Linked DNA regions of Homo sapiens: region 2 is linked to region 1. Evidence: fine-mapped QTL for protein levels in blood plasma. A gene starts in region 1. The other region holds a variant in brackets. All regions are shown on one strand. Distances are from middle to middle.

Region 1 (5,000 bases):
AAAGGATTGACTTTCAGAAATTTTTCTCAAGTCAAAGCTTCCACTACTATGGTTCCAACTTTTCTCTCTTTTTTTTAATTTTATTATTATTATACTTTAAGTTTTAGGGTACATGTGCACAATGTGCAGGTTAGTTACATATCTATACATGTGCCATGCTGGTGTGCTGCACCCATTAACTCGTCATTTAGCATTAGGTACATCTCCTAATGCTATCCCTCCCCCCTCCCCCCAGCCCACAACAGTCCCCAGAGTGTGATGTTCCCCTTCCTGTGTCCATGTGTTCTCCTTGTTCAATTCCCACCTATGAGTGAGAACATGCGGTGTTTGGTTTTTTGTCCTTGCGATAGTTTACTGAGAATGATGATTTCCAATTTCATCCACGTCCCTACAAAGGACATGAACTCATCCTTTTTTATGGCTGCATAGTATTCCATGGTGTATATGTGCCACATTTTCTTAATCCAGTCTATCATTGTTGGACATTTGGGTTGGTTCCAAGTCTTTGCTATTGTGAATAGTGCTGCAATAAACATTCGTGTGCATGTGTCTTTATAGCAGCATGATTTATAGTCCTTTGGGTATATACCCAGTAATGGGACGGCTGGGTCAAATGGTATTTGTAGTTCTAGATCCCTGAGGAATCGCCACACTGACTTCCACACTGGTTGAACTAGTTTACAGTCCCACCAACAGTGTAAAAGTGTTCCCATTTCTCCACATCCTCTCCAGCACCTGTTGTTTCCTGACTTTTTAATGATTGCCATTCTAACTGGTGTGAGATGGTATCTCATTGTGGTTTTGATTTGCATTTCTCTGATGGCCAGTGATGGTGAGCATTGTTTCATGTGTTTTTTGGCTGCATAAATGTCTTGAGAAGTGTCTGTTCATGTCCTTCATCCACTTTTTGATGGGGTTGTTTGTTTTTTTGTTGTAAATTTGTTTGAGTTCATTGTAGGTTCTGGATATTAGCCCTTTGTCAGATGAGTAGGTCGCGAAAATTTTCTCCCATTTTGTAGGTTGCCTGTTCACTCTGATGGTAGTTTCTTTTGCTGTGCAGAAGCTCTTGAGTTTAATTAGATCCCATTTGTCAATTTTGGCTTTTGTTGCCATTGCTTTTGGTGTTTTATACATGAAGACCTTGCCCATGCCTATGTCCTGAATGGGTAATGCCTAGGTTTTCTTCTAGGGTTTTTATGGTTTCAGGTCTAACGTTTAAGTCTTTAATCCATCTTGAATTAATTTTTGTATAAGGTGTAAGGAAGGGATCCAGTTTCAGCTTTCTACATATGGCTAGCCAGTTTTCCCAGCACCATTTATTAAATAGGGAATCCTTTCCCTATTGCTTGTTTTTCTCAGGTTTGTCAAAGATCAGATAGTTGTAGATATGCGGCATTATTTCTGAGGGCTCTGTTCTGTTCCATTGATCTATATCTCTGTTTTGGTACCAGTACCATGCTGTTTTGGTTACTGTAGCCTTGTAGTATAGTTTGAAGTCAGGTAGCGTGATGCCTCCAGCTTGGTTCTTTTGGCTTAGGATTGACTTGGCCATGCGGGCTCTTTTTTGGTTCCATATGAACTTTCAAGTAGTTTTTTCCAATTCTGTGAAGAAAGTCATTGGTAGCTTGATGGGGATGGTATTGAATCTATAAGTTACCTTGGGCAGTATGGCCATATTCACGATATTGATTTTTCCTACCCATGAGCATGGAATATTCTTCCATTTGTTTGTATCCTCTTTTATTTCATTGAGCAGTGGTTTGTAGTTCTCCTTGAAGAGGTCCTTCATGTCCCTTGTAAGTTGGATTCCTAGGTATTTTATTCTCTTTGAAGCAATTGTGAATGGGAGTTCACTCATGATTTGGCTCTCTGTTTGTTTGTTATTGGTGTATAAGAATGCTTGTGATTTTTGTGCATTGATTTTGTATCCTGAGACTTTGCTGAAGTTGCTTATCAGCTTAAGGAGATTTTGGGCTGAGACCATGTCTCTGTTTGTTTGTTATTGGTGTATAAGAATGCTTGTGATTTTTGTGCATTGATTTTGTATCCTGAGACTTTGCTGAAGTTGCTTATCAGCTTAAGGAGATTTTGGGCTGAGACCATGGGGTTTTCTAGATATACAATTATGTAATTTGCAAATAGGGACAATTTGACTTCCTCTTTTCCTAATTGAATACCCTTTATTTCCTTCTCCTGCCTAATTGTCCTGGCCATTGGAGAGGAGGAGCATCTCCCAGACAGCTGCGTGCCTCAGAGAAGCCAGCCTCGCTAACCCCTCAAGCCCAGGGGATGAGACCCTGCTGAATCGCTGCTCTATTTTGGCTGGAGCCACAGCTCCCTCCACCGCGGGGCGGGGCTAAAATGTCCTCCCCCTTAAGGGAGCAGGCAGCTCCTCCCAGCCACCCACCCCACCAATTCCCATCCTCCCGCCCCCCTCCACCAACCCCTTCTTTCCACACTGCCCCCTGAGTTCAGGGAATTTCCCCAGCATCCCAAAGCTTGAGTTTCCTGCCAGTCGGGAGGGATGAATGCAGATAAAGGGAGTGCAGAAGGCACGAGGAAACCAAAGTGCTCTGTATCCTCCAGTCTCCGCGCCTCCACCCAGCTCAGGAACCCGCGAACCCTCTCTTGACCACTATGAGCCTCCCGTCCAGCCGCGCGGCCCGTGTCCCGGGTCCTTCGGGCTCCTTGTGCGCGCTGCTCGCGCTGCTGCTCCTGCTGACGCCGCCGGGGCCCCTCGCCAGCGGTGAGAGCTCCTGGCACTGGGGTGCATCCCAGCCTCTGCGGGGCCGCTGCGTTCCAGGGAACTCTCCCAGCAACCTGCCCTATAAAAATGTCTTTCTTCCCCAGCTGGTCCTGTCTCTGCTGTGCTGACAGAGCTGCGTTGCACTTGTTTACGCGTTACGCTGAGAGTAAACCCCAAAACGATTGGTAAACTGCAGGTGTTCCCCGCAGGCCCGCAGTGCTCCAAGGTGGAAGTGGTGTAAGTTCTCCTGTGTTGCTGTGTCCACTGTGACTTAGGCAAGTCCTCCAGCCTGGGTCGTCAACCTTTGTGGCTCATGGGTGCATCCTCTTTTTCTTTACTTCAGAGCCTCCCTGAAGAACGGGAAGCAAGTTTGTCTGGACCCGGAAGCCCCTTTTCTAAAGAAAGTCATCCAGAAAATTTTGGACAGGTATTTGTCCCTTTGATCTTTGTGGTGTTTTAATATCTTCTATGGAAAGCATATACTTCACAATGTCCTTATTCTCTCTGTAGGATTTAGACTATGCTTAGAATTATAAGGTTGTTAAGAAGAATAAGGAAACTTTTTTTCTGGAATGTTCTGGGTAAACCTTTATCACCAATCTTACATGCCTGAACAATTACACAGAGCTCATTACTGACATCTATTTTTTGTCTGCTCTTTGCTTTTATTGATTTTTTTCCCCCACCAAACGCTTTTGAAAACCAAATGTAGCATACAAGAGTGTGGGAATTGGTTATACTAATATAACTCTTTTCTCAACAGTGGAAACAAGAAAAACTGAGTAACAAAAAAGACCATGCATCATAAAATTGCCCAGTCTTCAGCGGAGCAGTTTTCTGGAGATCCCTGGACCCAGTAAGAATAAGAAGGAAGGGTTGGTTTTTTTCCATTTTCTACATGGATTCCCTACTTTGAAGAGTGTGGGGGAAAGCCTACGCTTCTCCCTGAAGTTTACAGCTCAGCTAATGAAGTACTAATATAGTATTTCCACTATTTACTGTTATTTTACCTGATAAGTTATTGAACCCTTTGGCAATTGACCATATTGTGAGCAAAGAATCACTGGTTATTAGTCTTTCAATGAATATTGAATTGAAGATAACTATTGTATTTCTATCATACATTCCTTAAAGTCTTACCGAAAAGGCTGTGGATTTCGTATGGAAATAATGTTTTATTAGTGTGCTGTTGAGGGAGGTATCCTGTTGTTCTTACTCACTCTTCTCATAAAATAGGAAATATTTTAGTTCTGTTTCTTGGGGAATATGTTACTCTTTACCCTAGGATGCTATTTAAGTTGTACTGTATTAGAACACTGGGTGTGTCATACCGTTATCTGTGCAGAATATATTTCCTTATTCAGAATTTCTAAAAATTTAAGTTCTGTAAGGGCTAATATATTCTCTTCCTATGGTTTTAGACGTTTGATGTCTTCTTAGTATGGCATAATGTCATGATTTACTCATTAAACTTTGATTTTGTATGCTATTTTTTCACTATAGGATGACTATAATTCTGGTCACTAAATATACACTTTAGATAGATGAAGAAGCCCAAAAACAGATAAATTCCTGATTGCTAATTTACATAGAAATGTATTCTCTTGGTTTTTTAAATAAAAGCAAAATTAACAATGATCTGTGCTCTGAAAGTTTTGAAAATATATTTGAACAATTTGAATATAAATTCATCATTTAGTCCTCAAAATATATATAGCATTGCTAAGATTTTCAGATATCTATTGTGGATCTTTTAAAGGTTTTGACCATTTTGTTATGAGGAATTATACATGTATCACATTCACTATATTAAAATTGCACTTTTATTTTTTCCTGTGTGTCATGTTGGTTTTTGGTACTTGTATTGTCATTTGGAGAAACAATAAAAGATTTCTAAACCACTGATGTTGTTTCTCCTTCTTATACAGTTACTATTTATCTTTAATTCTACATTATTCAAAATATTACCTCTGCTCTTCTCTGGCTGGCAGAGAGGGCCCTCATTCCCCAATACCATTGCATTGGTTCAACTTTTCTCCATGTTCAGCCCCCTTCCAGTTACTCCTTCACAGCACCAATAGCCTCTGGGGTCTTTAGAAAACACAAATAGGATAAGATTTTCCTATCTAAATTCTTAAATGGCTCCCTGTTTCCTAGACATGAAATAAAAGTTGCTAAACATGATGAATGAGGTTCTGTCTCATCTCACTCCTGATCATCAGTACTTCAACTTCCCTTGTGCCTCACATTCACT
Region 2 (5,532 bases), 37 kb after region 1:
AATATTTTAGGTGTAAAATAATTAAGGGTATGATTAACTCTACCTGCACACTGTCCTATTATATTCATTCTTTTTGAAATGTCAACCCCAAGTTAGTTCAATCTGGATTCATATTTAATTTGAAGGTAGAATGTTTTCAAATGTTCTCCAGTCATTATGTTAATATTTCTGAGGAGCCTGCAACATGCCAGCCACTGTGATAGAGGCTGGCGGATCCAAGCAAATGGCCAATGAGATCATTGTGAAGGCAGGGGAATGTATGTGCACATCTGTTTTGTAACTGTTTAGATGAATGTCAGTTGTTATTTATTGAAATGATTTCACAGTGTGTGGTCAACATTTCTCATGTTGAAACTTTAAGAACTAAAATGTTCTAAATATCCCTTGGACATTTTATGTCTTTCTTGTAAGGCATACTGCCTTGTTTAATGGTAGTTTTACAGTGTTTCTGGCTTAGAACAAAGGGGCTTAATTATTGATGTTTTCATAGAGAATATAAAAATAAAGCACTTATAGAAAAAACTCGTTTGATTTTTGGGGGGAAACAAGGGCTACCTTTACTGGAAAATCTGGTGATTTATATCAATATTTCTCAATTTTTTAATTGTGTTTATTTTTCTGGGTGTTCAATTTGCTATACAGATAAATCAAACTATGAGTTATGCTTCATTTCATGCGGTGATTGCTGCCAATACCCTTGGCTCTCACCTAGTGAAGAATGCGCTTTACTAAACTATGGGCTGGCCCCTAATGGGAGAGTCACTGATATAAATTGCCCTTTTTATAAGAAGTTTCTTTCTGTCTTGCTACTCAAATTTACCTCCTTAAAAATATTTATATTATCTTAACAAGGGCTCTCATTTCATTGCTTTTGTTGAACAATATTTCTCATAATTGTTGACAATTTAATGAAGCTGGCAGTGAAATGGTGGCTAAAATATTTCGTTTTTCAAAACTCAAATCATTTGTGTCGTCAATAGAAGCAAAAGTGAGTGGCTGAATGCTTCACCTGTGAAAAGATCTGATTGAAATT[T/C]GGGCTCAGCTTTCTAGCCTTCACATATAAGTAATTAGCACTAAGATTTGCGGTGTTTCAATCCTTTATAGCAATATACCAACTATAATGGTTTTAAGATTGGACTGCATTCATTTGCATCGTTCCTAGTGGAATTTTGATGGGACCTCATAGAGCGGTTGCCTTCTGGGGAACTCTGTATTCAATGCTGTCCCAGAACAGCAGCAGCACTACAGGTTTTTAGGACAGAAGCAAAATTGGCATGTCTAAGGAAGAAATACCCCAATAATATAAAAGAAACCACACTCCAAACCTGAAAAGGAAGGATGTTCGTGCATGCATGAGGTGTGTGCTTGTTTCTGATTCAGAACTCATTCAGAAATCCTGAGCCCTGGGTAACTGCCTCTAACAGAGGCAAGAAGGTGAGACTGGCAGCCTCAATACTTCAAATCAAATTCTGGATCATCCCAAGAAGCTGGGCAAATAGAGGTCATAAGCAACAAGAAACAAACTCTGTGAGCTTTTCTCACAACTAAAAAAGTTAAAAACAAGAATCTCTTCATAATTCCAACATTATTAGTTAATTATGAATGAGATGAGGAAGAAGAATATTTGTAAACTATACATAAGCAAATAAATGCAAACCATTTGAGAAACTCCATAAATGGTAGCATTCACTCCCTAACCCCAAGTTAGAGGACACTGGAAAATGTTTACAAGTAGCATCCAAGGGTTCAATAAAACCACTCCTTACACCTAAGACAAGTCCTTACCCTCAAACATTGGAGCTTGCTGTACTGGCTACCTAGCTCTGGCTAATATGGAACAGGGAACATAAAAAGGACAAAAGAGATGCTTTTATTCACATGGTGGTTAAAGACAGATTTCAAAGGATCAGATTGACTTTGGTGTAAATTCCAGCTCTGTCACTGTGATCTTGGGCAAGTTTCTTTACTTCACTCAACCTCATTTTCCTTTCTATAGGATGAGGATAATAAAATTAGCCTTCTGAAGTGTTGTAAGAATTAAATGTTATGGAGGCTCTGGAAACCTGGTTCTTGCCATTGGTCCTCAGGCCAACTCCATGGACATGGTCTCAGTCTCAGTCTTAGATCAAGCAGATATGTAAATTGTGTTTTCACACCAAATTGCTCTGAAAACTTGCAAGTACAAGGCAGTCTCCTGTTGGGAGTGTTATAGCAGGAAGTAGGATACAGCGTTTTTGGCGTGGTAGTCACAGGGTGAAGGAAGTAGGAAAAGGATATTACATAACACATCACAGTTTTGAGAAGCCATCAGCAGGAAACAGCAATGATCACAGTGACTGAGGTTTCTTGAGCAATGTTACCATGGGGTCTAGAGAAGGAAAGAAGGAGACGTGGCTAACGCTATTCTATCATTGTGAGTCCTCCTGAGACACCCTCTCAGGTGTTCCAGAAGTAACTGGAGAGACGTTAAGGGATGGTGGAGGTGGCAGACCCACAATAGCACAGTGAGGGAAATCCAGAAAAACAGATCACACAGTTTGTCTTTTCTGGCTACCCAATCACATAATTTAAAAAAGGACCTGCCTGTCTTCACCAATGATGTCCCACTCCCCTCACAATGAGTACAACAGCTGCAATGTATAACAGCTTCCCAACTTAAGGCACTTGTTCTTCTGCATCTCTTCCTGGGGGCTTCCTCCATTGAGGTGTGGGAAAGGGGGCTTGGCAGAGAGAGATTTCTCAGCCCACAGCTAGGATGGCCTGTGATTTGATGCCCTGAGAGGAGAGATAGGAGTTAAAGGATGAATATTCAATTTTCCCAGTCTCTTGTTAGATAATTCTAGAATTTCCTATCTCTCTCTCCATATATATGTGTGTGTTTAAATTTTATAGATAGTGTATTAAAATAAATAAATATTAAAAAGACATATGAATAGATGAAATGTTCCACTTCCCTCTTCATTATGTTTACACCTTCTTTACACACCTGAGCATAATTAAGATAGTTATTTTAAAATCTTGGTATGCTAAGTCTATCATTCTGTCACTTCTGAATCTATATTTACTTGATTTTTTTTCTCTTATATAACTCATGCTGTTCTACTTCTTAGCATGTATAATCATTTTCATTTGACTGCAGGAAATTTTGAATCTTATGTTGCTGAGTGTCAAGATTTGTTCTCTTTCTTTAGAGTCTTGGGCTCCATTTTGACAAGCAGGTAAGTTCTAGGGCATCAGCTTTGTCTCTTTGGGGCTTGTTGTTGAGCTTTGTTAGGGTGGTCTAGGAATGTTCTTCACTCTAGGGTTTGTTTAGCTGTACTACTAAGTCATGTCCTTCTTGTGCCGTTAGTGAATGCCCTGAGTGCTCACAGGTTCTCTCTACTACGACAGGGTAGACCTTAACTATCTCCTCATTCCATGCTAGGTCTGAGGTTTTCTCAGCTTACAAATCTCTAGTTACTCTTTGCTTGACTTATGGAGTTTCCCCCACCGTGCGTGTGTGACTTAGTACTGATCAAAGAGACCCAGTGGGACCTCAGTGCAGATTTATGGAGTTCTGGTTTCTTGCATAGATCTCCCCTTTCTACAACTCTTTTTTCCTAAACTTCTAGCCACCCCAGCTCCCTTGAATTCAAACCTGTGCCCCCTCAACTCAGTAAGACTACCATGGTCTACTTTGGATCTCTCCCCTTGCACGGTGGTCCAGAGTTGCTCCAGAAAAAAACCAAGATCACCATACACCTCACCTTGTTTATTTCCTTTTCTGAGGAATTCTAGCCTTTTGCTGCTTGTTGTCCAATGTCTGATAACAATTGCTTCATATATTGTGTTGCATTTTCTAGTTGCTTAAGACAGGAAGTTATGACTTCTGTTTTACTTCAACGTGACTGGAAATTGAAGTCTTATTGGGACAATTCTGAGGAACATTTTACAAGGTTTCCTTGAGACTCCATGGCAAGATGAAGCCCTGGTTGCACAAATGATAGCTCATTCATTACATACACTTTATTAGATTTTCTCTCTTCCCTATCCCACATTCCCCCACTCCTTCACTTGTTCTTTCCATGATCACCTGTAAGATAAACTACTGCGCATAAGTCTTTTATCAGACTCTGTTTTGGGGGAGCCCAAACTTAGACAGTTGGGCCCCCCAGAAATTAGACCTCATAGCAGAGGCTTATGACTACTATTTTATTGAGGAGTATAATGCCAGAAAACCAAGAGGAAGAAAAATGGGAAGTGAGGCAGAAACAAGTGAAAGCTCATGATAGAAGAGAGCAGAACCACACTGGCCATTGCTGCACACAACTGAGTTCTTGACCTCACAAAGGGGCTGTTGTGAGTGTTTGCTTTCCTCATCTGCAGAAACTATGAAACCTGCTCAAACCAAGAAATTGTAGTTGTTGTGTTTATAGCAGAGTCATAAATCTTCCTAACAGCAGGGCATCAGCCTCTGATTTCTATTCCTTGGCTATGCTTAAAATAAAAATGTGGAATCTGGATCCACAAGGTACTAAAGCAGGGAGAAAGAGTCTACTAAACCATAGTCAGGACCTCATTTTCACCTTTGAAAAGGTGAGGACTCCAACTGACATTTTTGTTCTCCACATTAAAAGTAATAAATCTTTCTTTTTTTAAGTGAAAAGTAGTTAGAAATGCTACTGTTGCTTTCAAGAATCTCCTAAAAAAGAAGCCAGATCATATGGTGAGAAATAAATAAATAAAATGTTGAGACTAGGGACTGATCCCTTGACAGCCAGACAGGAGTTTGGTTCAAAACTTGAGAGATCACAAGAAAAAGAAAATCAGCCTTCTCATTTTATAGATGGAACTACAAAGGCTCAGAAACCACCAAGGAGTTACCAAATGCCATGGAATTATTTTATTACAAAAGTGGGTCAGAGTTTGGTTTTCTGATGACTAATACACAGTGATTTTTATTAAACTAGATTATTTTCATGACTGCTCAAGAAGACAGTTATCCTAAATTTTGGCTACAGGATTGGCTTTCTAAAATTTGTAGAACCATTCTCAGAGTACTAATTAATAGCTAATAGCCATTCACGCCATGTGCCACTTTAAGAAAGTTTAAAGAAAACATTGTGCATATTGTAGCCAAATAATTCAAAGTATAAAATGAGTTCAGCCAATTTACTGGCTAAATTACTCTATTAATCATCTATTGTCTCCCGAAAATGCAGTGGGTTTAAACAGTCACCATTTTATTTTGACACATGACCATCAATTTGGGCTAGGCAATACAACAACCTGGGCTTGGCTCAGGTAGTTCTTCTGATGGTGTCTCCTGGAGTCACCAGGTGACACTTGGTGACCGAGTGCAGCTGCCTCACTCACATGTCTGGTTTTTTGCACTAGTCATTGCCTGGGCCTCATGAGCTTGGCTATCCTCATATGGTGGCAGCTGCATTTTAACAGAGCAGGGGTAGAAACTCCTAGGCTTCTTACCTTGTTGGCCTGGAACATCTACATCATCACTTTTAACACTTCCTATTGGCCAAAGCAAGTCATGAG

Direction of the effects. Alleles are on the strand shown, and positions count from the first base shown. The strength of an association depends on the size of the effect and on how common the allele is.
In carriers of allele T in region 2, the plasma level of the protein whose gene starts at base 2,565 in region 1 tends to be higher than with C alone (weak association).

What was found. A credible set is the group of variants that fine-mapping cannot tell apart. PIP is the chance, under the fine-mapping model, that this variant and not a neighbour inherited with it causes the effect. Protein levels are from antibody-based Olink assays in UK Biobank. Linkage for the fine-mapping came from a reference panel and not from the study's own genotypes, which makes the PIPs less certain.
Region 2: its variant is the best candidate, but not a certain one, in a credible set for the plasma level of the CXCL6 protein (UK Biobank, PIP 0.60).

Annotation. Positions count from the first base shown.
Region 1 is chr4:73,834,114-73,839,113 of GRCh38, forward strand. CXCL6 (C-X-C motif chemokine ligand 6) reads left to right here and starts at 2,565. Exons shown (of 4, transcript NM_002993.4): 1 at 2,565-2,746; 2 at 2,851-2,983; 3 at 3,090-3,173; 4 at 3,510-4,647. The coding sequence starts at 2,638. The coding sequence ends at 3,528. RefSeq lists a silencer at 2,539-2,833.
Region 2 is chr4:73,870,721-73,876,252 of GRCh38, forward strand. CXCL1 (C-X-C motif chemokine ligand 1) reads left to right here. Exons shown (of 4, transcript NM_001511.4): 4 at 1-588. Among named protein-coding and RNA genes, the nearest start is that of CXCL1, 4.1 kb to the left of the region's middle. The variant T/C (reference allele first, on the strand shown) is at 1,034.